Linked DNA regions of Homo sapiens. The protein of the gene in region 1 interacts with the protein of each later gene in a pairwise test. Each region holds a gene or a part of one and is shown in the gene's direction. Other genes may lie near its edges. The genes, in order: TTC23L, VPS9D1, COL26A1 and ZNF784.

Evidence for each region.
Region 2: the proteins of TTC23L (region 1) and VPS9D1 interact in binary tests that used the Homo sapiens proteins (3 or more experiments, as listed by UniProt).
Region 3: the proteins of TTC23L (region 1) and COL26A1 interact in binary tests that used the Homo sapiens proteins (3 or more experiments, as listed by UniProt).
Region 4: the proteins of TTC23L (region 1) and ZNF784 interact in binary tests that used the Homo sapiens proteins (3 or more experiments, as listed by UniProt).

The regions. Positions count from the first base shown.
Region 1 is NC_000005.10:34,842,143-34,849,173, forward strand, and holds part of TTC23L (tetratricopeptide repeat protein 23-like), read left to right. Parts: intron 1-15; exon of another isoform or gene 16-964; intron 965-3,344; coding exon 3,345-3,531; intron 3,532-7,031.
Region 2 is NC_000016.10:89,706,614-89,710,909, reverse strand, and holds the end of VPS9D1 (VPS9 domain-containing protein 1), read left to right. Parts: coding exon 1-324; intron 325-961; coding exon of another isoform or gene 962-1,003; coding exon 1,004-1,133; intron 1,134-1,474; coding exon 1,475-1,683; intron 1,684-1,953; coding exon 1,954-2,053; intron 2,054-2,378; coding exon 2,379-2,483; intron 2,484-2,955; coding exon 2,956-3,049; 3' UTR 3,050-3,776; downstream 3,777-4,296.
Region 3 is NC_000007.14:101,365,855-101,372,885, forward strand, and holds part of COL26A1 (collagen alpha-1(XXVI) chain isoform 1 precursor), read left to right. Parts: intron 1-7,031.
Region 4 is NC_000019.10:55,621,554-55,629,454, reverse strand, and holds the start of ZNF784 (zinc finger protein 784), read left to right. Parts: upstream 1-4,888; 5' UTR 4,889-4,893; coding exon 4,894-4,971; intron 4,972-6,810; coding exon 6,811-7,704; 3' UTR 7,705-7,901. UniProt on the Homo sapiens protein: May be involved in transcriptional regulation.

The DNA.
Region 1 (7,031 bases):
AATGAAACACATGAATTTAATTTCAATACTATATTTTATTTCAATATATACAAAATATGCTAAAATTATTAATGAAATATTTTATCTTTTTATACTCTTTAAAATACAGCACATATTTTACATTTACAGCACATCTTAATTCAGACCAGCAATATTTCATGTGCTTGATAGCCACATGTGGCTAGTAGTTACCAAGTTGGATAGCATTTTTTTTTTTTTGAGACAGAGTTGTGGAGCACCAGATTCTGTTGCTGTTTGGGGGGCCCCTATGTAACCTGCCACAATCCCTGGTGGACTGAACAAAGGAGGGGTGAATGTGGGAATAAAAGACAAGAGACAAAAGAGTATACTTGGAAGAAGGGGTCAGGGGGCACCTTGCCTCTAGTGGACGAAGGCCCTGAGCTGTACACAGCCCTCTGTATTTATTAGGCAAAAGAGATGGTGAGAAGGGGGGTGGAAGAAGGGGTCAGCTGCTTAGTCCAGAGTAGGCTTGCAAGACTTCATTCCTCAAACAACAGGCTCTAGATGTCACAGTAGATAACCTCAGCGCTAGGGAGTGATTGCCTCCAGCAAACCCTCTGTCGGCAGGAGCACTCGTGAGTTTGCTCACATCCTGCATTCATGATAAACAGTTTGCTGTTTGATCATATCGTCTCCAGTGGAATGCTGAGTTGGTCACATCCCATGGGCCTTCGGCTCCCAGCACAGAGTCTTGCTCTGTCACCCAGGCTGGAGCGCAGTGGTGTGATCTCAGCTCACTGCACCCTTCGCCTCCTAGGTTCAAGCCATTCTCATGCCTCAGCCTCCTGAGTAGCTGGGATTACAGTCTCACTGTGGTATTTTTTAGGAGATACAGGGTTCCACCATGTTGGCCAGGCTGGTCTCGAACTCCTGACCGCAAGTGATCCATGCACCTCGGCCTTCCAGAGTGCTGGGATTAGAGGTGTGAGCCACTGTGCCTGGCCTGGATAGCATAAGTTTAAATTCATAAAATATCTTAAGGTTAAGGGTTATATGACTATAAAAATTGAAGTTCATAAAAATGTCAAGTTCACAGTAAAATATCTGGGAAATAATCGGATAATTTATATCGAACATTACTAATCAGAATTCCTATTCATGATGGTAACATATGGAATCAATTATAAACCTGGCAAGGCAGACCTTCCATTCAACCTCCTATTCTTTTTATTCTGACCATCCTTTGAGATGTCTGACTGGTCAGGATTCTCCAGCCATCTTTCTCACCTTCTATAACATGATGTTCAAAGCTAGTTCAGGGATTTACATTCTCAAATCATTTGTCAAGACCTCAATGTTTCTCATTCCTTTGAAGTCCCTGAGGTTGAAGCTTGCCACCTTTGGTCTTACCTTAATGTTATTCAAGGCTTAATTTAAAATATTTCGGGCTTATAATTTTTACTATCCATAATTAGCAATCTGGTGACTCCAATAGATTTAACTTCTGCTCTAGGTCTGTGAAATATGCAGCTTAAGCAAAATTTGCTATTGAGATATGATCTCTTTTTTTTTTAACTGCCCCTTGCAGAACAGGGCTAGCTCATAGGCAGCATGCCCAGAGTCAGCCGACTTATGATCTCTTGCCACAGATTTCCTCTCTCCTCAATATTTTTCAAACATTCTAAAGACTGCACATTCTTTTCTCATTCATTTATTCATCATTTAACAGGCCATTATTTGTTTTTACTATGAGCCAGATATCAGGTTTTCAGAAACAAATGAGGCTCAGCCCCTGCCGTATTGGAGTTTACTTTGCCAGCAGGCAAAGAAGACTCAGAAACAAACCAAAGAAACAACAATAAAAAAATCAAACAACAATAAAAAAAAATCACAGTGTACTAGCAGTTTGGGGGAAATTTTTGAAAGCCCTTTGGAGGCTGCCTTTATTGCTACTCCAGTGAAAGACTTCCAGGAATGATGACATCTGAGTTGTGTCTCGAAGGAGGAGTATGGAATTCACCAGGCAGAGAAAAGGAAGTTCATCACCTGTCTTCTGATCAGGTCACATCCCCAACCTTCCCTGGCTGTCCCATCAAATTAGCTTGTCTACTGAAAGCACACTCGTCTGTGGGCAGAAGGCAAGCCTGCCTGCGCTTGGGCCTCAAGAAATGTTGCTTCCCTATCTACACAACCTGGTTTGCCCACGTGCCTCTTGATAAGTTAATTAGAATAGAACTCTAGAAGGATATTAGCATGTCATTTTTCAAACCTGGTGTAAAAGATTACAGTTGGCATACAGCTCTTAAAGGTGGCACAGACCCAAAGAGTGAGCAGCAGCAGCAAAAAAAAAAAAAAAAAGGTTACACTTGGCAGTTATTTTCTTCTTGTGCTTTTCTGATTTTTTTTTTATTTAAACATTGAACATTCACTCTTTAAGCTTTTTGTGCTTTTCTGAATTTTCTTTTTATTTAAACATTGAACATTCACTATTTAAGCAATCAGTGGAAAAGAAAAGTAAATTTTATTTTAAAAACTACTCAGTGGCTGAACTTTTGAGTTATTGTGAGTATAAAGATGAGTCCTTTGGGAGACTTATTTATACTTAAAATTTCTACCGTTGCTCCTAAGATCTCAAAATTCTGTTTCTTCTGTAGCACTTTATTGATTTTTCTGGTGATGTTAGGATATAGTTCTTTTTAACACAACTAGGGATATTTCTCCTCTGAATCTGCACTTGATGTAGCGTGGGGTTCCCTCCCTGTCTCTGGTGGGACCCGTGTCCTCTTTTCTTGGCCACCACATGTTGAAGCTTTTAAGATATGAGAAGACATGCAAAGTCCAGCCTCAAAATGTTGGTTTCCTTTCCCTTATTTCATTGTATCCATTTTCTTTCCTTGCTTGGATCAGAATTTTAGAACACAGATATTCCTGGGGATCCTCCAGTTCAACACCCTCATTTGTAGAAGAAGAAGCCCTGTCCTGGAGCTAATGATATACTAATAGCTAACATGAAAGGAACACTTAGTGAATGTCACACACTGTGCTGATTTATGAGTATTATCTCATTTAATCCCATAACCTCATCAAGTAGGCATCCATATTCTCATTTTACAGAGAAGTAAATTAATAACTTGGTTAGGGTCATGTGATTAGTAAGCAGCAGAGCTGTACCTCTATAAATCGGCTTCTTCTGAACTACCACATTGCTGTCTTAATGCTAGGCTTTGAGGGCGACGTGAGTTTACTGCCTAGCTTTATTCCTTCCGGTTTATGTTAGAAATCATGTCCCTATCCCCTAGTTGGGAGAGCTATGCCCTTCAATTTTACCTTGTTTGAGATGGAGAAGGTTAAATCCTGAATCCTTGCCTCTCTCATACCTACAGGTCACAGCAAACCGAGATCCCAGCTCACCAGCAAACAGATGAGTTGTATCCCACTGGTGGGTGTGGAGAGAGTGAAGAGGAAACTAAAGCTAAAGAGAAGGAGAAGGCCATAGACTGTATGTCTCATCCCAAAGAGAAATTAGCCCAATCCCAGAAGAAAGTAGCTCAGCTGATTAAGGAAAAAATGGTAAAACAAAAAACTCACTAAAATTTTGTTTCCATTTAAAAATATGTTCCTGTTTAGAGAAGCTTTGCCTTCGATGCAGATTGAAGCATATGAAATAGAGGAAGGTGTCATATTTCTTTGTAAGTAGCAGAAAACAAAGCAGAGCCTACTTAGGTAGCCAGCCCACCTTCTGGTTCCATGCATGGTTCATTGTCTGTTCCTCCTTGGGGCATTTCTGGTCCTAGCTTTAAACTAAAAATTAGGCCAGGTGCAGTGGCTCATGCGTGTAATCCCAACACCTTGGAAAACCGAGGCGGGAGGATCTCTTGAGGCCAGCGTGAGTAACATAGTGAGACCCTGTCTCTACAAAAAAAATTAAAAATCAGCCAGGCATGGTGGAGGGAGCCTGTAGTCCCATCTACTTGGGAAGCTGAGACAGGATAGCAGCTTGTGCCCAGGAAATTGAGGCCACAGGGAGCCCGTGATTGTGCAACTGCACTCCAGCCTGGGTAACAGAATGAGACTGTGTCTCTAAGAAAATAAAGTAAAAATTTGAAAAACCTAAAAATTATCATTTGATTGTTTTTGTTGCTGTTACCTTTAACTTAAAATTAAAAAAAAAAATAGCTGGGCGTGGTGGCTCACACCTGTAATCCCAGCACTTTGGGAGGCCAAGGTGGGCAGATCACCTGATGTCAGGAGTTCAAGACCAGCCTGGCCAACATGGTGAAACCCCATCTCTACTAAAAATACAAAAATTAGCCAGGCGTGGTGGCGCATGCCTGTAATCCCAGCTACTTGGGAGGCTGAGGCAGGAGAATTGCTGGAACCCAGGAGGCAGAGGTTGCAGTGAGCTGAGATCATGCCATTGCACTCCAGCCCGGGCCGACAACAGCTAGACTCTGTCTCAAAAAAAAAAAAAAAATATATATATATATATATATATATACACACACATATATATACACACACATATACATATATACGTATATATACAAATACATATATGTGTGTATGTGTGTGTGTGTGTGTGTGTGTGTGTGTGTGTGTGTGTGTATCCATCCTGGAAGGTTTCAGGATGCTATCTCTTAGGTAACAAAAAGGCTGGGATAGTAAGGCAGGAGGTTGAGAACAGGTAGGCAGGCAGGTCTAAGCTCTGGCCTGGAAAGGATATGGGTAAGATGCCCTTGGTTACAGTGGAATCATAAACAAACCAAAGGGCCAGAAACAGAAGGTAGCAGTGGAGGTCAAAGATTCCAAATATGCATTTCTAAGAGCAAGTCAAAGACTTGAGTCAAAGATCTCAGAGCAGGTTTGTAAGCATGAGTATTCAAAATCCAGGAGACTGAGACAGCAAGACGTCGACTCTCATTATTAGAACACAGGCACCAGCCTGCTTCCAGAGCATGATTTATCAACAGAAGAGCTTGTACCTTGACTTCCTGGCTCCTCCTAGCCAAGGGGAAAAAAGTAATCTAGAGAGGTTTCATTTTCTATCATTTGCCTCTGAAGTATCTCTCTAGATGGATATTTGTAAATTTATCTCTGTAAATGACCCAAGGACCTTGCAAAGGACAGTCATCCTGGCCTGGACCCATTAGTGATTCACAAATCCAGGCTAGAAGGATCATTTCTAAAAACACACAAGTACCATCTGCCATGGAGTGTAAGTGGGGGTTTTCAAGGCTTAAAAACTCCTTGGCCAGATTGGATAATGACAAAGATTTAGATCTTAGGAGAGAAATCTGACTCAAATCCCAAGCTCATCAAATTGTATAAAGTGAACAGGTGCAGTTCTTTGTATATCAGTTATAGCTCAATAACGCTGTTTTTTTTTTTTTTTTTTAAATCAAACCCAACCTAGTACTCCTAGCCCTGAAGGGCAGGGGATGCCACATCAGCAGCAGAAGTGCTGGGATGACATCTGGAGCCCGTATTGGTTGTCCCGGTTTCTCCAAGTCAAGGAGTTCGAGGATGAATATACAATGTCCAGAGCCAAAGCTTTGGTCTCCCATTCCAGTGATTTTTTCATGGCATGATGCTTCTTCCTCGAAAGAGAACTTAGTATTTGCTGTGGTCAGCCCATGGTGAACTCTAAAAAATGCTGACTAAATGGATGTTTTGGAAGCATCAGGGGAAGTTTCCTTCTACCATTGCTTGCTTCTGTATATTTGAGCAGGGGGCAGGTAAAACATGAAGTTGGGTAGGAGATAGGAATCAGTAAGGAGTGTATTCCTTGGAATAACCTATGGTACTGCTGTATCTTATCTAACATTACTCTTTAAATGGGTTACTTTGGTTACCTGTACATTATTCTTCAAACGGGTTACACTTAGATCTGACCTAACAACACTGAATCATTTGGACACTATTTTTTTTTCCTTACAGTAACTCCATGAGGTAGATGGTACAGGTTTCCAAACCTCAGAAAAGGAAGCTGAGATCAAAGTGGCCTGCCCCAAAGCAACACAATCAGTAAACAAACATTAGAACCAGGGCTGAAACTTTAGGTTTTTGGTTCCTTGAAGTGCTATTTTCACTTAACCAGGAAAAAAATGCCTGACCCTATCGACTCGTTCAGCCAATAATGGCTGTGTTTGTAAAGTCACTGAAATATATGACTTGAAGATACAGTTCGGTGATTTCTTAGAGAGCTCTACCTGTCATTTCTATAGGGGTAGAGGATTATTTTCCCCAACCCATCTTTAACCTTGCTAATAAATGATTCATTCAGCAAATATTGAATGTGTTACACCTGTGTGTACTGGGCAGATAACAGCGAACATGAGGAATAAACTTCTGTCCTCAAGGGACTTATCTTCTATTTGGGGAGATAATAGACAAACAATAGTAATAGCTAATAAAATATTAGATAGAAGTAAGTACTATGAAGAAAAAGTAAAATAGGTAATGGGATATTGAGTGATGAAGTGGTGTCTATTTTAGATAAGGTGGCCAAAAAAGGCCTGTTGATAAGAAAAGTGAAAATGAAATGAGAAAGTGAATGACATGGAAGAGTGTCCCAAGCAGTGGGAGCAGCACGTGCACAGCCCTACATTGGAAGTTAGCTGGTGATGTTCAGGAACCGCTGGTCAGTGTAGTTCTAGCAGACAGAGTAGGAGGAAAGGGTGGTAGAAAATGAAGTCCAGAGGTGATTGGCATTGGGTCAGATTATGCAGAGCCTTGGAAGCCATGGTGAGGACTTTGAATTATATTAAGAAGAAAAAGCGGGAAGCTGTTGGAGGATTTTGAACAGGAAAGTCATGATCTAATTTATATCTTAAGATATAAACACATAAAATACGTTTTAAAATCCATAAGTTTCTAATAATAATAACAAGCTATTTGATCACAATTAGAGGATGCTAGTGAACAATTCATTTTTCTGAAAGCTAGTAAAGGGCAAGAATAAACCATGTGTCCTGCCTTTCCAACATGAACTGTACTATTGGGTAACCAAAGAGTGGAGGAGGAGAAATTCTCCTTACAGAATTATTCCAGCTAATGTATGAAGAAGGAAT
Region 2 (4,296 bases), on another chromosome or scaffold:
GCTGCTGCCCCCCGACCCCCAACCCCGGAAGCCGACGGCTGCGGCCCTCGCAGAGCCTCCATTGCATGCTGTCCCCGCCCGAGCCCAGCGCAGCCCCGCGGCCCCAGGACAGTCCCCCCACGCCCCCACTCCAACCCGGCCCCGTGGGGTCTCCCTCACCCCTGGGGGACACCGCATCTGGATTGCCAGACAAGGACAGCTCGTTCGAGGACCTGGAGCAGTTCCTGGGGACGTCTGAGCGGCAGGGCCGGGGCCGTGGGGTACAGCCGGAGCCCCAGCTGCAGCAGCTGAAGACCGCGGTGGAGGAGATCCACAATGCCGTAGGTGAGGCCAGGCCCTCCCTGGGAGAGCCGCCGCAGCTCTTCACCCCTGCTTATTGGTCCGTTTCAAGCTTCTGTTTGGGGAAGGGTCTGTTGATCAGAGACTCTGATCAGACTTACATCCACCCAGCTCACGCCTCAGCCCTTCTCATTTTGGAAACAGTGTGGTAGAAACGGAGTTTCACCATGTTGGTCAAGCTGTTCTCAAACTCCTGACCTCAGTTGATCTGCCCACCCCGGCCTCCCAAAGTGCTGGGATTACAAGCATGAGCCACCGCGCCCAGCCCAGAGTTTTCTAAGAACCACTGAGGGAGGCCCAACAGTCCAGGCGTCATTCTCACTGTGCTGCCCACACACTAAGGAACTTGGTCAGGGTCCCCACCCACAGGGGGTTGGATCTAAAGTCTTCCCTGGTTCCTGCAGTTTTGGGTAAAGCCCCTTTTGAGAAAAGGATCATTCTCCGGTTTCTTCTCAGGCTGCTGGCCCAACAGGGCAGCAGCTGTAGGTGACCGTTTCCAGTCCCGGACTCCCTGCCCTGGGCCGAGGAGGGTCAGGGGTGGGTGCAGGAGGCTTGAAGGCGGTGGAAAGAGGTTTCTTGGGCGGAGAAAGGCCCCGTGGCTTAGAGCCACTTGACCCAGCAGGGGAGGAGCCTCTGTGGACGTCCCCGGCTCTGTTCCTAGCAGACAGGCTGCTCTCGCTGACCCTTCTGGCCTTCGAAGGCCTAAACACAGCTGCCTCCAAGGACCGCTGCCTGGCCTGCATTGAGGAACCCTTTTTCTCCCCGCTGTGGCCTCTGCTGCTGGCCCTGTACAGGTATGGACCCAGCTGTACAACCACCTGCGTGGCCTAGTGTCTTCCAGCCCAGTCCCCCAGGAGGCCTGCCCTGCTCCCTGGCACTGTCTGCTCCCCTCCATCCCCAAGACTCGTGTTTGCTCCCCCTAGCCTGTGCTTTACCCTGAGGCCATCCTCAGGGGCTTCCAGTTTGCAGGTAGGATTATTGCCACTCTCCCGTGCCTGGGGTCTTGGCAACGCTGGGGCTTTTTGCTTGAGATACATAGCCAGTTTTCTCCAGGACTGAGCTCCAGCCACAGCCCTGCTTCTGTCCCCAGGGCAAGGTCCCTGGGGCAGCTTAGCCTGGCCTCTCTCTGCCCCAGGAGCGTGCACCGAGCCCGGGAGGCTGCCCTGAGCAGGAGCATGGAGCTCTACAGGAATGCACCCCCCACCGCCATTGGCATCCCCACCAAGCTCCTCCCCCAGAACCCTGAGGCCAAGGGGGCCACTGGCTACCCCTACTGCGCGGCGGCCCAGGAGCTCGGACTGCTGGTCCTGGAGAGCTGCCCCCAGAAGAAGCTGGAGTGCATAGGTCAGCAGGTTCGAGAGTCAGGGGGAGGGACAGGCTCCCATCCCAGTAGGTGACCTGGAGCCTGTGTCTTCACCACTGAGCTTCTCTTGTCACGTGCCGGTGGGGAGGTTGGGGGACCAGAACAAAAGTGGTGTCTGAGCAACATCGCCAGGGTCACCGTGGCTCTTCCCAGCCGTGCACATCAGGAGGTGGGTGGGTGGGCGGGGTATAAGGGGTGGCTCAGGCTGCTGGACGGGGTTAACTGCCCCTGAAACCCTGTCTGGGGCGCAGTGCGGACCCTGCGGATCATCTGTGTCTGTGCGGAAGACTACTGCCCCACCCCAGAGGCCACACCCCAGGCCGGGCCCCCGCCCATCGCTGCAGCTGCCATGTGAGTCCCAGGAGGGCGAGGTGTGGCCAGGGAGGAAGGGCCCTAGAAAGGCAATGGTCACGGGAGGGACTATCTTCCTGCCCCTTAGCCTTGTGCCAGCTGGCTGCACTGTAGAAGCAGGAGGGCCGTGTGGGCCCAGCCCTGGCTCCGCAGTACGGGAGCTCCCTTTAGGGACAGCCTCACCATGCCCAGCTGCCTTCCGGTGCCTCTGCGCAGAAGGGCACAGAGATGGCGGCCAGCACGGCCAGGATGGCTCCACAGCTGCTGGGTTTGCGGAGTGAGAGGCTCCTGGCCCCAACCCAAGGCCGCTATGCCCTCCCGACAGTGGTGCCGATGACCTGCTGCCCATCCTGTCCTTCGTGGTGCTGAGGAGCGGCCTCCCTCAGCTGGTGTCGGAGTGCGCGGCCCTGGAGGAGTTCATCCACGAGGGGTAGACCCTGGCGGGTCAGGGTGGGGGTCTCTGTGCGAAGAGCAGGGACCTCATCCCTCAACCTAAACGGTGGTTGTCAGTAGCAGCTGGGGAGGGTAGCGTGTGGCTCCGTCACAGCCATGCCTTCGGGCAGCCCCTGTGGGTCCACCTGTGCAGAGTGCCTGCTGCCACATGTCCCGTGGCCCTTCGCTTAGCTCAGCCTCTCCCAGACAGCAGGAGCTGGGGGCTGTCCCCTGAGCAGCATCTGCCTGGGGAGGGGATAAGGATCCAGTGCCATCCCTGGCTCTACCGTCCAAGGACGAGCACATAGTGGGTGGGAAAGGCCTCCTCTAGCCCAGCCGCCCTGACAGCCCCACCTGCCCACCCTCAGCACCCAGGTCCTGAACTGGGAGGGCAGACACTACCTTCTGGAGGGCCGGGGGTATCCTTCTGTTCGTTCAGATGACACCGGCTGCCCCTGCCATCCATGCAGGTACCTGATCGGAGAGGAGGGCTACTGCCTCACATCACTGCAGAGTGCCCTGAGCTACGTGGAGCTGCTGCCCCGGGGAGGCCTGGCCAAGTAGTACAGCTAGAGCCCAGGGTCCCTGCAGGGCCTGGCCTCGCCTCCCAGGGCTGTCTCTCCTACACCTGGAGCCATGGGATCTACTGAGGACCATCCTGGAGCCTCACGCTGCTCTGCACATGGTGGGGGCTTGTCCACTGTGGTGTGCTCTCCAGCTCTTCACCTTCCTCACCTCACATCTGACCCTGGAGCTTGGGGTTGGCACCTCTGCCCCGACAGAATGGGGCTGAATCAGCTCCAGGAGGAACCAGGCCCTGCTCTCCTGTGTAGGCCTCAGAGAGGCCAAGAAGGGAAGCTTTGGGCTTCGGTGGGTGCAGGCTCAGCGATGAACATCTGGCTGGGGCAGCTCCTGGGGAGCATCAGGGAAGAGGGGGCCATGAGCCGGCCAGCAGTGGAGACGGCAGTCCAGTTTCTCTCCCCTCTGACCCCTAGAAGGGGAGTTGTAGCCCCATGAACTAGTTTCTTGTCTGGGTCAGGAACAAGGGCCGGCTGGGGCCTGGGGTGCAGCTGGTGTCAGGGTATGCTGTTTGCTGATGGGCAGGGACACCCCTGCAGGGTCTCGGGCTCTGAGCCCAGGACATTCCCTGCCCCTTACTCACCTTGGCTGTGGGCTGTGAACATTCCGGGACCCTGGGCATCTTATCTAGGTCCGTGCAGCCCAAGGGTCAGCCCTCTTGACTGTCACATGCTGCCCCCACCCAGCCTAAAATAAAGAGCTCACTGCTGTGCTTCGCCGTGTGGCTCCCTCAATCCCCACCCCACTGGCCAGGCAGCACAACCACCCCTGCTGCCCATGGCAGAGGCCGCTGAGGATGTGGGGGACGAGCCACAGCCCAGCCCCAAACCAAGCCTGGCCCAACCTCTTGAACATCTGCCAGCCTCCGAGACCCTCTGCATAGAAGCAGGGTCCTCTTGGGGCTGTGCCTGGCCAGGCAGGTGTGGGCTTCACCCTCTTGGACAGGAGAGCTCTGCAGGGCATCAGTGGGTGGGAAGGGTGGGGTGAGGCTGGGGTCCAGGTCATCACTGGGGACCTGAGCCCAGAGCAGTCACCCGAGGGTCTCAGGAATCATCGTTCTGTGCATGGCGACACACACATGCTCTGAGGTGCACAGAAGGCTGCCGGGCGTGGACAGCATCTGCCAGGGCGGTGTGGGCAGATCAGGATGGAGGGCTCTTCTGCAAGAAAGGCACCCCTGGCACCTTGAGATGCCATGAGGAGGCAGGTGGCAGGGCTGGTGGGGTGGGAGG
Region 3 (7,031 bases), on another chromosome or scaffold:
CTGCAAAAAAGCAAGAGGTGAGGACCATGAAGAGCGGGAGCGAATGGGGACCTCATTCTGGCATTTGGTGGGTTGGAACTTGGGGACATCTGCAGAAACTTGGAAGGGATCATTTTAGCACAAACAAAAAGAGGCTCAAACAAGTGTGGAATCTTCCAGAACTCTTTCCACCAGGATAAGAACAGGGAGAGGATATAATTAGGTTTAGGGAGGATGTGGATGAATCTGTGGGCAATGGATTCCTAAAAAGGATACCAGAAGGTGTTGGGGAGGCTTGGGGCACATTGATATTCCAGAGTGTGACTGAGTCTCTTTGCCCAGAAAGCCCAGCGTGGGCATTGCAGGCACCTGGTTGTTGCCTGGGTGAGTTACAGGCTGGAGCTGGCTTGGGCGTCACATGTTTCTGTGTCTCATGAGCTATCTATCACAAGTGTCCCTTGTCCTTGAGATCCAAGATGTCCAGAAGCTGAAGGCTTGGGGACAGCAGTGGTCCTTGCAGCCTTGGCCTTCAGTAGTGTGTTTACCGGGGCTTGGCTTCAGTTGACAGGCAATGATGACAGGGCTGTTTCTTGACAAAGAGTGCTTTAATTTCATTGTTACTGCTCCTTGTTAACGTCTGATTTTTTTTTTTTTTTTTTTTTTTTTTTTTTTTTTTTTTTTTTTAAAGACAGGGTCTTGCTCTGTCACCCAGGCAGGAGCGTAATGGTGCAATCATAGCTCACTGCAGCCTCGACCTCCTGGGTTCAAGCAATCCTCCCACCTCAGCCTCCTAAGTAGTTGGGACCATAGGCATGGGCCACCATGGCTGGCTAACTTTTAAATTTTTCATAGAGGTGGGGTCCTGCTATGTTGCCCAGGGTGGTCTTGAACTCCTGGCTTCAAGTAATCCTTCAGCTTTGGCCTCCCGAAGTGTTGGAATTACAGGTGTGAGCCACTGTGCCTGGCCAAAAAGCAGTTTTTAATTGTTAGTTTGTTCAAATCAGGATCTAAATAAGTCTGCTTATTGGTTATTCTGTCTTTTCTCTCCCTTTTAGTGTAGGAAAGTCTTCCCCCTTTGAGAGAGTACTTTTTCCTCCACGCTGTTGACTTGTTGAAGACCAGTTGTTCTCTGCGATGTCCACGTACTAGATTTAGCTATTTCCTTCCCAGTGGTGTAGTTAACTTGATCTGCAATGTCCACGTACTAGTTTTGACTAATTGCTTCCCAGTGGTGTAATTAATTGGATCCTCTGCCCCCTGTATCTCTTCTATTTTGGAAGTTAGGTTGGAAGGTTTGATTAGATTTATGGTCTCTATTTGGGCTTGCTGGGAGAGACAGAAATTCTTCATAGGTGGTCTAGTCTACCATATTATATCAGGAGATGCTCTGGACTGATGTGTGTGTCCCCACCAAATTCATATGTTGAAGCCCTATCCTCCAATGTGGTGGTATTTGGAGGGGGGACCTTTGGAGGTAACTAGATTTAGATGAAGTTGTGAGGGCTGTGCCCCATTATTTGATTAGGGATGTTATAAGAACAGGAAGAGAGGCCAGGTGCGGTGGCTCATGCCTGTAATCTCAGCACTTTGGGAGGCCCAGGTGGGTGGATCACCTGAGGTCAGGAGTTTGAGACCAGTCTGGCCAACATGGTGAAAACCCGTGTCTACTAAAAATACAAAAATTAGCCGGGCGTGGTGGTGCACACCGGTAGTCCCAGCTACTTGGGAGGCTGAGGCACTAAAATCGCTTAAGCCCGGGAGGCGGAGGGTACAATGAGCTGAGATCATGCCACTGCACTCCAGCCTGGGCAACAGAGTGAGACTCTGTCTCAAAAAAGAAAAAAAAAAAAAAAAAGAAGAAGAGAAATCAGAGCTCTCTCTCTTTGCCATGTGAGGACACAGCACAGCAAGAAGGTGGCTGTCTGCAAACCAGAAAGAGAACCCTCACCAGGAACTGAATCTGCCAGCACCTTGATCTTAGACTTCCCAGCCTCCAGGGCTATGAGAAATAAATGTCTGCTACTTAAGCCATTCAGTCTGTGGTATTCTGTTACGGCAACCTTGAGCTGACTAACAGAAGGATGTGGCTTTATTCTGGAAAGCTGGGTGTTAAATATTCAGCAGAACACCACTGTCTACAAGTCTCCTCCACTGTCTCCCTTCTTTTTGTTGCAATTTATTTGTTGAAGAAACTTGGCCTTCTAGATTGTTCCTTTTTCAGGATTTTGTTGGTTATATGCTCATGGTGCCTGTGAACATGTTCATCTGTCCTCTTTATTTCCAGATAATGGGAAATTAGATCAAGAGCTTGGTTGGATCTAGTTCTTCCTCCTCCTTCGTTTTCTATTTTGGCAGAATTACATCTTGGGTGCTGTAGTGTTTTTCCATTGGAAATCACAACGTCTGGTTGTCTCTCTTTTTCTCTCGTGATGCTTGAGGTGTTGGTGATCATTGCGTATGTCATTCTTTCATTAAGGATCGCAAAGTGGATGCAAGACAGGCAGGCCCCCAAATTGGGGCTTAGCCAGGAGGGTTCTTGGCTTCACCCAGGAAAGAATTCAAGGGTGAGTGGGTGGTTTCAGACAGCAACTTTAATTGATGTGGCAGTGTACAGCTGCAGCAGAGGTCCTGCTCCTTGCAGAGCAGGGATACCCCATAGGCAGTGTGCCCAGACTAGCAGCTCAGAGGCAGTTTGGCACTATTTATACTTACTTTTAACTATATGCAAATTAAGGGGCAGTTTATGCAGGAATTTCTAGGATGAAGGTGGTAACTTCTAGGTTGTTGGGTTGTTGCCATGGAAAGGCATGGTAACTTCCGGGTGTTGCCCTGGCAAATGGTAACTGACATGGTGCCCTGGTGAGTGAGTCTTATGGGGATGTGCTTCGTCCTAACCTGTTTTAGCTAGTCCTCAATTTGGTCCGGTGTCAACCCCAACCTCCAGAGTCAAGTCCCGCCTCCTACTTCAAAGTAGTACTATAATTTTGACTCTTTTTAAAATTCGTAATTGCTAGAATACTTATAATTTCCCCCTTATTTACTATTTGTAGGTAGAAAAAACTCACTCAAAATCTGGCTCTTTCCAAAAAAAAAAATTCTTTTTGCAAATGTAAGCAATTTGTGTGTGTATGTGTGTGTGTGAGCGTAACAGTGTGTATGAGTATGTGTGTGTTTGTGTCTGTATCCTCCTCCTTTTCTTACACAGAGGTAATATGCTAGTTACTCTGTCTTCAACTTGGCCTTTTTCCATCATAACGTGTTGTGGAGATGGCTCTATCAAAAAGCAAAGATGGGGGGGCATGATGACTCACGCCTGTCATCCCAGCACTTTGGGAGGCCAAGGTGGGTGGATCGCTTGAGGTCAGGAGTTCGAGACCAGCCTGGCCAACATGGTGAAACCCCTTCTCTACTAAGAATACAAAAATTAGCTGGGCATGGTGGCGCATGCCTGTAATCCCAGCTACTTAGGAGGCTGAGGCAGGAGAATTGCTTGAACCCAGGAGGTGGAGGTTGCAGTGAGCTGAGATCACGTCACTGCACTCCAGCCTGGGTGACAGAGCAAGACTCAGTCTTAAATAAATAAATAAATAAAGCAAAGGTAATCTGCATCTTTTTTTTTTTTTTTTTTTTTTTGAGACAGAGTCTCGCTCTGTCGCCCAGGCTGGAGTGCAGTGGCGCAATCTCGGCTCACTGCAAGCTCTGCCTCCCGGGTTCAGGCCATTCTCCTGCCTCAGCCTTCTGAGTAGCTGGGACTATAATCACCCGCCACCACACCCGGCTAATATTTTTGTATTTTTTTTTAGTAGAGTTCTGCATCCATTTTTATGGGTCTGTTGTTCTGTACAGTGTGAGTGACTGTATTTATTCAGCTAGTCCTCTACTGATAGACACTTGTGTTGGTAAATGGCAAACACATGTTTAATTCTGCTAGATAGCGTCAAGTTTCCCTCCACTGGGGTTACAGCATTTTGCATTCCCATCAGCAGTTTCTTCTTGGGGTACATTTTGAAGAGTCCATTTTATTTTATTTTATTTATTTGTTTTTTGAGATGGAGTTTCGCTCTTGTTGCCCATGCTGGAGTGCAATGGCATGATCTCGGCTCACCGCAACTTCCGCCTCCCAGGTTCAAGCGATTCTCCTGCTTCAGCCTCCGTAGTAGCTGGGATTACAGGCATGTGCCATCATGCCTGGCTAATTTTGTATTTTTTGTAGAGATGGGTTTCTCCATGTTGGTCAGGCTGGTCTCAAACTCCCGACTTCAGGTGATCCACCCGCCTCAGCCTCCCAAAGTGCTGGGATTACAGGCATGAACCACCGCGCCTGGCCTGAAGAGGACATTTTAAATGATGCTGGTTGATATGGCCTTTCAGGGGTAAGAATAGACTTCCCTGATCTTATAGCACCTGCAAGTCCTGGCCACCCCTAACCTTTTTGGGGCTTGGGGCAAGACTAAAGATGAAGACCATTCACCATTTGGCTAGATATTTAAAAGTATAAAATCAAGCTGACACACTGTTTGTTTTGTTGTTGTTGTTTGTTTTGTTTTTGTTTTTTGAGACGGAGTCTGGCTCTGTTGCCCAGGCTGGAGTGCAGTGGCACGATCTTAGCTCACTGCAACCTCCGCTTCCCAGGTTGAAGCGATTCTCCTGCCTCAGCCTTCCGACTAGCTGGTATTACAGGCATGCACCACCATGCCTGGCTAATTTTTTGTATTTTTAGAAGAGATGGGGTTTTGTCATGTTGGCCAGGCTGGTCTCGAACTCCTGACCTCAGGTTATCTGCCCACCTCATCCTCCCAAAGTGCTGGGATTACAGGCATGAGCCACTGCACCCTGCCCACCTTTCCTTCATCTATACCTGCTGCTTCAAACTCTCTCTGTCTCTGAATTCACTTTCTTGTGGTTTCGTCTAAGCCAAAGTGCTTGGTGTGTCCCCTCCTCACTCAAAATGCCTCCCTCTTACCTTGACTCCCCCCTCTTTTGGTAGAACCACAAGCACCCTTCCTCCAGGAAGTCTCTCTGGATTTACCTCCCAGCTTTCTGTTCATCTCATTTGTGGGTAGCCCCTGCACCTGTGATTTGTGGGTAGCCCCTGCATCTGTGATTGTGGTTTTGGTTCTAGAACTCACTTCCCCAGTTTCCCTCCTTGCAGATGGAGTCATTTCTCCTTCCTCATTTACTCCCTACAGGAGTGGCTCTGAGCAGCCGTCCTTGGGCAAGCGTGCATGAGCTGGAGCTTAGCCCTGCCCACCACCCACCACTGCCTCTTGGAAATGTGAGCCGCTCCAGGTCAGGCATTTAATCACCTTGCATTCACTGAGCCCACGTGTAGGTAGGGTAGAGGCTGGGGACTCAAACGTGAAGGCAGGGGGCTGTGCCTGGTGGCCTGCATGGAGGAAGAGCTCAGCAGACTCTGGGGAAGTGGATGATCACATCCATGGGGACTTGTCCCTCCGACTGGATTGCATGCCTCTGCAGTGTTGGACCCCTGCCTTTGCTCTCTGGTTCCCTACATTCAAGAATTGGCAACTGTGATTAGCTATGGTGCCTCATGCCTTTAATCCCAGCACTTTGGGAGACCGAGGTGGGAGGATCACTTGAGCCCAGGAGTTTGAGACCAGCTGGGACAACATAGCCAGACCCTGTCTCTGTAAAAAAAAAAAAAATTAAAAAATTAGCTGGGTGTGGTGGTGCACACTTGTAGTCCTGGTGGAAGCTGAGGTAGGAGGATCACTTGAGCCCAGGAGTTTGAGACCAGCCCGGGAAATATAGTCAGACCCTGTCTTTGCAAAAAAAAAACTTTAAAAAATTAGTTGGGCATGGTGGTGCACACTTGTAGTCCCAGGTATTTGGGAGGCTAAGGTGGGAAGAACGCTTGAACCCAGGAAGTTGAAGCTGCAGTGAGCTATGATTACACCACTGCGCTCCAGCCTGGGTGACAGAGTGAGACCCTGTCTCTGGGGCAGTGAGATGTTTCAGACCCAGCCTCCGTCCTTGATGAGCTCAGAGACTGGTTGGGGAAAACAGATCCATGAGCAAGAGTGGAATTTGGTGTGATACAAATGTGTGCAAAGTGAGCTAGGGGAGTTAGGGTTTGTGGGAGCCTGGGAGTCTTTGTGCCTCAGTTTTCTCATCTGTAAAATGGGAATGACTTCAGTACTTCATTAAGTTGTTCTGGGGCTTACATGGGTTAATATTAATAATGTTCTTAGGAAAAAGGATAGTAAACCCTCTGTTCATGAATGTGACCGTGGACTGCATTCATATGCCTTGCAAAGGTTGCAAGGACGGGGGAGTTCCACAAATATATGAAGCCTTGGAATCTTTTTCTGGGGAGCATTTTGTTTTTTGAGACGGAGTCTGGCTGTGTTGCCCAGGCTGGAGTGCAGTGGTGCGATCTTGGCTCACTGCAACCTCCGCCTCCAGGGTTCAAGCGATTGTCCTGCCCCAGCCTCCCAAGTAGCTGGGATTACAGGCGCCCACCAACATGCCAGGCTAAGTTTTGTATTTTTAGTAGAGCTGGGGTTTCTCCACGTTGGCCAGGTCTTGAACTCCTGACGTCAAGTGATCCATCTGCCTTGGCCTCCCAAAGTGCTGGGATTATAGGTGTGAGCCACCGCACCTGGCCTTCTGGGGAGCATTTTGTTAGGATTGTGTTCCTGACCACATACTTAGGGAAATGTTCTAGTGGATAGAGACTAAATGTTGAGGACTTCTCAGAGGAGTCAACATAGGAGGTGGGTTTTGTAGGATGAACAGGAGAGCTTGAGGCAGTGACTGGGGCATTCTGGGCAGACAGACAACTGTGTAAAGGCTTGGAAGTGTCATTAGCTATTGCCTGACATATAGTTAGTGGGACTGAGTTCAGAGTGGCTGGACTAATGGGATGTGGTGGCTCATGCCTGTAATCCCAGCACTTTGGGAGGCCAAGGTGGGAGGATTGCTTGAGCTCAGGAGTTCAAGACCAGCCTGGGCAACACAGCAAGACCCCGTCTCTACCAAAAATAAAAAATTAGCCAGGTGTGGTGGAACACACCTGTAGTCTCAGCTAC
Region 4 (7,901 bases), on another chromosome or scaffold:
ATGGCACGGTCATGGCTCACTGCAGCCTCAACCGCCTGGGCTCAGGAAATCCTCCCACCTCAGCCTGCTAAGTAGCTGGGACTACAGGCATGCACCACTACACCGGGCTTTTTTTGTTTTTGTTTTTTGTTTTTGTTTGTTTGTTTGGTTTTTGGTAGAGATGGCTGTCATGATGTGTTGCCCAGGCTGGTCTGGAACTGCTGGGCTCAAGGGATCCTCCTGCCTCTGCCTCCTAAAGTGCTAGAATTAGAGGCGGAAGCCACTGAACCCCACCCAATTCACCCATTTAAAGTGTATAATTCAATAGTCAGTATATTCATAGTTGTGTGCACATATCATGATAGTCAACGTTAGAACACTTTCATCACCTCAAAAAGAGATCCCATGCCCTTTAGGTATCACTCCTCTATTCTTCCTTCCCCCCAACTCTCTATCCCCACCCAACCTAAGGAACCACAAAGCTACACTCTGCCTCTATAGATTTCCCTATTCTGGTGTTAATAGAATCTTAATAATATGTGGTCCTTTGTGCCTGGCTTCTTTCACTTAATATATTTTTAAATTTTATTTTATTGACACATAATATTTTACAGAGTTTGGGGTACATGTATTTGTTACACGCATAGAATGTGTAATGATCAAATCAAATCGGGGCATTTGGGGTAACCACCATCTTGAGTGTTTATCATTTCTATGTGTTGGGAACATTGCAAGTGCTCTCTCCTAGCTACTTTGAAATACACGGACTGGGCGTGGTGGCTCACACCTGTAATCCCAGGACTTTGGGAGGCCAAGGCGGGTAGATCACCAGGTCAGGAGTTCTAGACCAGCCTGGCCAACATGGTGAAACCCCATCTCTACTAAAAACACAAAAATTAGCTGGGCGTGGTGGTGGGCACCTATAATCCCAGCTACTCAGGAGGCTGAGGCAGGAGAATCGCTTGAACCCGGGAGGCAGAGGTTGCAGTGAACCGCGATCGAGCCACTGCACTCCGGCCTGGGCAACAAGAGCGAAACTCCATCTCAAAAAAAAAAAAAAAAAAGTATGTCTTCTCTGTAACTATGTTGGTACCCATTAACCAACCTTCATTCATCCCTCCTTCCACCACACACCCTTCCCAGCCTCTAAGTTAGCATAATGCTTTAAAGGTTCATCCATGTTGTCATGTGGATCAGTATTTTATTCATTTATGGCCAAATAATATTCCACTCTATGGATATACCACATGTTGTTTATGTTTATGGACATCTGGGCTGTTTCTGCTTTTTGGCTGTTATGAATAGCATTTGTTTACAAGTTTCTGTGTGAATGTATATTTTCAGTTTTCTTGGGCACATAGAAAAATGAAAGGGAGAGGAACTGCAGAGCCATCTAGCTAATTCTATCAGCCAATTTCTTTTAAAAGGCAGGAAATCTAGGCTCCGTGAGGAGAAGTGAAGTGCTCAGGTTTTACAGGAAGATAGAGATGGAGAGAAGCGAGGCAAATCTGATTCCAAGTCCAAGACTCTTCCTGGCATTTTCTTTTATTTTTTTATTTTTTTATTTTAAGATGGAGTCTTGCTCTGTCTCCCAGGCTGGAGTGCAGTGGTGCAATCTTGGCTCACCGCAACCTCCGCCTCTCCAGTTCAAGCAATTCTCCTGCCTCATCCTCCCGAGTAGCTGGGATTACAGGCGCCCACCACCACGCCCGGCTAAAATCTTCTTGCAATTGTCTAATGGCTCCGTGTAGCAGGGCTTCTAGCCTCAAGTCATGCAATAGCCTGTTAGTGTTATGCCAGGTACCGAGGGACTCAGAAGCCAGACAACAGGTGAAAAGGCAAGGAACCCAGATTCATTTTTAAATTTTAAAATTTTATATTTATTTTATTTTATGTTTATTTATTTGTTGAGACAGGGTCTCACTTTATCACCCAGGCCAGAGTGCAGTGGTGTGATCTTGGCTCACTGCAGCCTCAACTTCCCAAGCTCAAGCAATCCTCCTGCCTCAGCTCCCCAAGTTCCTGGGACTACAGGCGTGCTCCACTGTGCATGTTAATTTTTGTATTCTTAGTAGAGAATACCAAGCCCAGGCAGAACCCACATTTATTGAGCACCAGTTGGTTCCAGGCATCACACAGACCTTTGGCATTCTCAATCAGTGGCATTCTAACTACAACCCTGCCAAATGACATTATGGTGCCCACTTTGTAGATGTCAGCTAGACACTTAGAGGAGACATTGCTTGCCCAGAGTTGCACAGCAAGCAGATAAACGGATCTGGACCCAGGTTTGCCTGATTTGAAAGCTTATGGTAATTCCACTAAACAGTGCTCTCCTCTGCAAATATTTAATAGCTTTAGTGGGGGTGGGGAGGAAAAAAAAGGGAAAAAATACTCAATAGCCTTAAGCTCTGGTACAAAGTTCTTCTATCTGCATGAATTCAATTTCTCACTCATTCATTCACCAAACACTCACTGAGCCATATACATGCCTTCTCTATAGGGATGTACAGAGGGGATACAGAGATGACATACTTCCAGCTCTCAAAAAAGGGAAACTGGAGGATGAGTTCTGGGTGCTATGAATGATCTCTTTTAATAAAGAGCTTCTCAATAAGAAATAGACCAGGCGCAGTGGCTCATGCCTGTAATCCCAGCACTTTGGGAGGCCGAGGCGGGCCGATCAGCTGAGGTCAGGAGTTTGAGACCTGCCTGGCCAACATATGGTGAAACCCTGTCTCTACTAAAAACAAAAAACAAAACAAAACAAAAATACAAAAATCAGCTGGGCTGTAACACCCTGGGAACAAATCCGAACGTTCCTTCTAAACCAACGCAGGCCGACTCGAGGCTCTAGCAGTCAGTGGAAGACCTCAGCGGAACTGAAGAGGCTTTGCTTTGTTTCCACAGTAAAGGTTTTTGTGGTTACCTCTGCACCACTTGCGATAACGTAATGACGTGTCACACCTGTAGTCCCAGCTACTTGGGAAGCTGAGGCAGGAAATTTGTTTGAACCAAGGAGGTGGAGGTTGCAGTGAGCTGAGATCACGCCACTGCACTCCAGCCTGGGCTGTTTCTCAAAAAAAAGAAAAGAAATGAAATTATTTCACACCCAAGAGATTAGCGAACATTTTAAAGTTTGAGTATCAGATATTGATAGGAATGTTAAGCAACAAAGGTCCCTATTTATTGCTAGTGGGAGTGCCAAATGGTAGTAATTATTATAGCTAACTCATAGCACCTGCTGTGTGCCATACATTGTCCAAAATACTTTATATATAATGACTTCTTTAATCATCATAGCAACTGTGTAAAGTAGGTTTTATTATCACCCTCATTTTGCAAATTAGGAAACCTGGACAGAAAGAGCTGACTTAAGCATTAGACACAGTAGTAGATACAGTGCCTAGGGCCCATGATACTCTTAGGGACCCACAACATTTAAAAATTTATTTTAGGCCGGGCGCAGTGGCTCACACCTGTAATCCCAGCACTTTGGGAGGCCGAGGTGGGCGGATCACCTGAGGTCAGGAGTTCGAGACCAGCCTGGCCAACATGGTGAGACCCTGTATATACTAAAAATACAAAAATTAGCCGGGCATGGTGGCGGGCACCTGTAATCCCAGCTACTCAAGAGGCTGAGGCAGGAGAATCGCTTGAGCCCGGGAGGCAGAGGTTGCAGTGAGCCATGATCATGCCACTGCACTCCAGCCTGGGCGACAGAGTGAGACTCCATCTCAAAAAAAAAAAAATTATTTTAAAATCAAAAGAAAAGAAGGGAAATATAGCTTTGGAAGACCAAGGCAGAAGGATCGCTTAAGGCTAGGAGTTCAAGACCAGCCTGGGCAAGGCAAGACAGCAAGATCCCCATCTCTATAAAAGAAGAAGAAAGGAGGAGGAGGAGATAATTCAGCCTAAGTGGTGTTTATCTTTATTTTATACCAACATATCACAAAATATAATTTCATATATATTTATGAATGAAATGATCATGCTTAGGATCATGTTTAAGTATCTCCTATCCTGCCCTTTCAAGAAAACTATTTAAAGATGTTTCCAAACTCTTCCATGTCTCTTCTCAGTGGTTTGTCACAATGCTTCTACAGTGCTACACAAAAGAAAGAGAAATGGTCCAGAGAAGTGTAGTGACTTATCCAAGGTGATACCACCAGAATGACTAAACGGGGCAGCTAAGAAGAGCCCCGTCCTTGATGCTGCTGAAAACCCCGCGTTTTTGAGCTCTTTCCTCCCAAACATAACATCAGCTTGCGGGTTTTTGCGTCCTCCCAGGACCACCTGTGTTGCTGTTTACTGAATATTTTTCTCCACACTGCCTTTTTTTTTTTTTTTTTTGACAGAGTCTCTGTCACTCAGGCTGCATGCAGTGGCGAGATCATGGCTCACTGCAGCCTCGACCTCCCGGCCTCAAGCGATCCTCCCACCTCAGCCTCCCGAGTAGCTGAGAATACAGGCATGAGCCACCGCACCCGGCCTACACCGACGTTTATAAACTTGGCGTCATTACGTTGTCATGAGCAGTGCAGAGGTAATCACAAAAACGTTTACCGTGGAAACAAAGCAAAGCTTCTTCAGTTCTGCTGAGGTTCCCCTGACAGCCAGAGCCTCGAGTCGGCCTGCGTTGGTTTAGAAGGAACGTTCGGATTTGTTCCCAGGGTGTTACAGGCATCCTAGCGCCACACAGAGCGTACCCTCGGAGGGACAGACAGGTAATTAGAGAGGGAACAACTCACATTCTCCCGGGCTCAGCCGCCACGCCCCGCCCCGCCACGCCCCCTGCTGCACCACGCCCCCTCGCAGCCCCGCACTGCGCCTGCGCAGTAGCTCTTACGCCAGTTCGAGCCCCACCCCCTTTCAGAGCGAACATTGGCCTTGGGGGCGGGGCTTGGGCACAAGATGGCCGCTGCGCGCCCAGAGGCCCAGAGTCGGAGCTCACCGACTCCGGAGTCGCGATCCCAGGAGCCACTGGACCTGGTGCGGGCAAGGAAGGGGCCTGGGCGTGGGGCTCGAGGTGGGAGGAGGTCGTAGTGTGGGGGGCGGGTCCGGGGCGTGGCCTATGAGGGGGTGGGCGAGGGAGGTATTTAGTGCTATGGCCCTGGGGGTGGGGCTTCTTGTGGTTTCGCGAGGGGCGGGGCAGGGGAGGAGACTATGTCATGGTGGGCGGGGTGGGGGAGGGACCTATGGGTGGTGGGCGGGGCCTGGATGGGGGCGGAGTCTGAGGACGGTGTTGTCTTGTGGGACGGGTTTGGGTCCAGGGAAGGGGGCTTACCAGGGATAATTTGCATAATTTGGGTGGAGCCTTGTAAGGGGCGGGGCCTCATAAATTCTAGGGCTAATTCTAGGGTAGAAGGTTGGGAAGGTGACCCTGAAAAACGTGGGGGATTATGATTGGAGCACCTATGTCGGGGTAGGGGATAATTCTTCAAGGGTCTTAGTGATGCTTCTCGAATGCCCAAGGGAGAATTTGGGGGTAGAAGTGGGTGGTCTAGGTGACTTTGGAACTTCCTCCACGTTACCCCACTCAGAATTAGACTAATTGAGGACATTCATTCATTCAACAAACATTTACTGAGCTCCTACTTCGGCTCTGTAAATAGAGAAGTGACCAAGACAGACAAGGGTTGTGTTCTTTTGGAGCCTGCAGTCTCTTGAGAGGAGAGAGACAATAAAGGAGAGTTACTGTGATATGTTCTATAAAGGAAATAAAAATTGAGCCAATTTCTATAAATTGAGCCAAGAGTAGGGGTGGGGCAGCTAAATTTAGACGAGAGAAGTCAGCTGGGTGCCGGCTTATGTTTAAGCTGGGGTCAGAGAGATAAGTGGAGCTACATCGCCACAGATATTATAGTGACGATTTGGGATAAGTCATTTGGAGCCACTGGAGGGTTTTGAGTGCGAAAAATGACTTGATCTGATTTACATTTTCAAAAGACCTTCAGGCTATTCCTGGGAGGTGGGTTACAAGCCAGCAGAAATAGGAACAGAGATGCCCTTGGGTTTTTCAATTTTGGAGGCGCCAAGTGATGGGGCTTTAACTAGGGTGGAGGACAAAAGGTGGGATCCATGATATATTTTGGACAGGAGAGGAAATGTTGATGAGGATACAACAGAATCCTGGAGGATGGGCCGGGCGCGGCGGCTCACGCCTGCAATCCCAGCACTTTAGGAGGCAGAGCCAGAAGGATCTCTTGAGCCCAGTAGTTGGAGACCAGCCTGGGCAACATAGTGGGACTCCCTCTACATTAAAAATAATAATAATAATTTTTGTTTGTTTTGCTGTCTAAGATGGAGTCTTGTTCTGTCGCCTGAGCTGGAGGGCAGTGGCATGATCACATCTCACTGCAACCTCCACCTCCTGGGTTCAAGCGATTCTCGTGTCTTAGTCTCCCGAGTAGCTGGGATTACAGGCAGCAGCCACAACACCTGGCTAATTTTTGCATTTTTAGTAGAAACGGTATTTGCCATGTTGGCCAGGCTGGTTTCGAACTCCTGACCTCAGGTGATCTGCCTACCTCAGCCTCCCAATGTGCTGGTATTACAGGCCTGAGCCACCGTGCCCAGCCAGAAATAATTTTTTTTTAACTAGCTGGATGTGGTGGTGCATGCCTGTAATCCCAGCTACTCAGGGAGATGAAGTGGGAGGATCGCTTGAGCCCAGGAGGTCAAGGTTGCAATGAGCCACGATCGCGCCAGGGCAACAGAGTGAGGCCCTGTCTGAAAATAACAGAGGAGCCCAAGCTTTAATAATTGGGGCGTGCTGGGGCGGTCCTGAGGCAGGTTCCACAGGCTCCTCTTTCTTCTCCTCTTGCCCAGGTCCTGGTGCCTGATGACTGCCGGCCTGGCACACCCCCGAGTGACCTCATCGAGATCCAGGTGGTGAAGGTGACGGACACCACGCTGGTCCCTGAGCCCCCGGAGCCAGGTTCTTTCCACTGTGCCTTGTGCCCTGCTGCCTTCCGGCTGGTTTCCGAGCTGCTGTTCCACGAACATGGCCACTTGGCTGGGGCCGAGGGAGGCGGGCAGGGTGGGGACCCGAGCCGGTGCCACGTGTGCGGCCACAGCTGCCCGGGCCCCGCCAGCCTGCGCGCGCACTACAGCTTGCACACGGGGGAGCGGCCCTACCGCTGCGCGCTCTGCCCCCGCGCCTTCAAGGCCTTGGCGCCCCTGCTCCGGCACCAGCACCGGCACGGGGTGGAGCCGGGCACCTCTCGGAGGCCTCCGGACACAGCGGCCGTTGCAGAACAGAGGCCCGGGGTGGCCCCGGAGAGGGCGGAGGTGGTGATGGCGGCGGCGGCGGCGGGCGCAGCGGTGGGGAAGCCTTTTGCCTGCAGGTTCTGCGCCAAGCCCTTCCGCCGCTCCTCAGACATGCGAGACCACGAGCGCGTGCACACTGGCGAGCGGCCATACCATTGCGGCATCTGCGGCAAGGGCTTCACCCAGTCCTCGGTGCTTAGCGGCCACGCCCGCATCCACACTGGCGAGCGCCCGTTCCGCTGCACGCTCTGCGACCGCACCTTCAACAACTCCTCCAACTTCCGCAAGCACCAGCGCACCCACTTCCACGGGCCGGGGCCGGGGCTGGGAGACTCTGGAGGCCAGCTGGGCTCGTCGGCGGCTGAGGGGTCGGGGAGCGGGTGTGGGGTAGGGGACCCTGCGGAGGAGGGGCGGGGGGAGACCGCGAAGGTGAAGGTGGAGGCCGACCAGTAGGCTGCAGACCAGGGACATGGGTTAGTTAAGGCGGAGGTACGAGGCCGACCCGGGGAGGGGGACGGGGTGGGGAAACGGAGGCAGGGGACAGAAGAGGGGAGATTGGGGGAGAGATGACAGCTGCAGGGATGGTTGTGAGCCGCTAGTGATGGAGAGCAGAGGGAGAGGGCCAGGCTCCAGACTCCCACACGCCCACA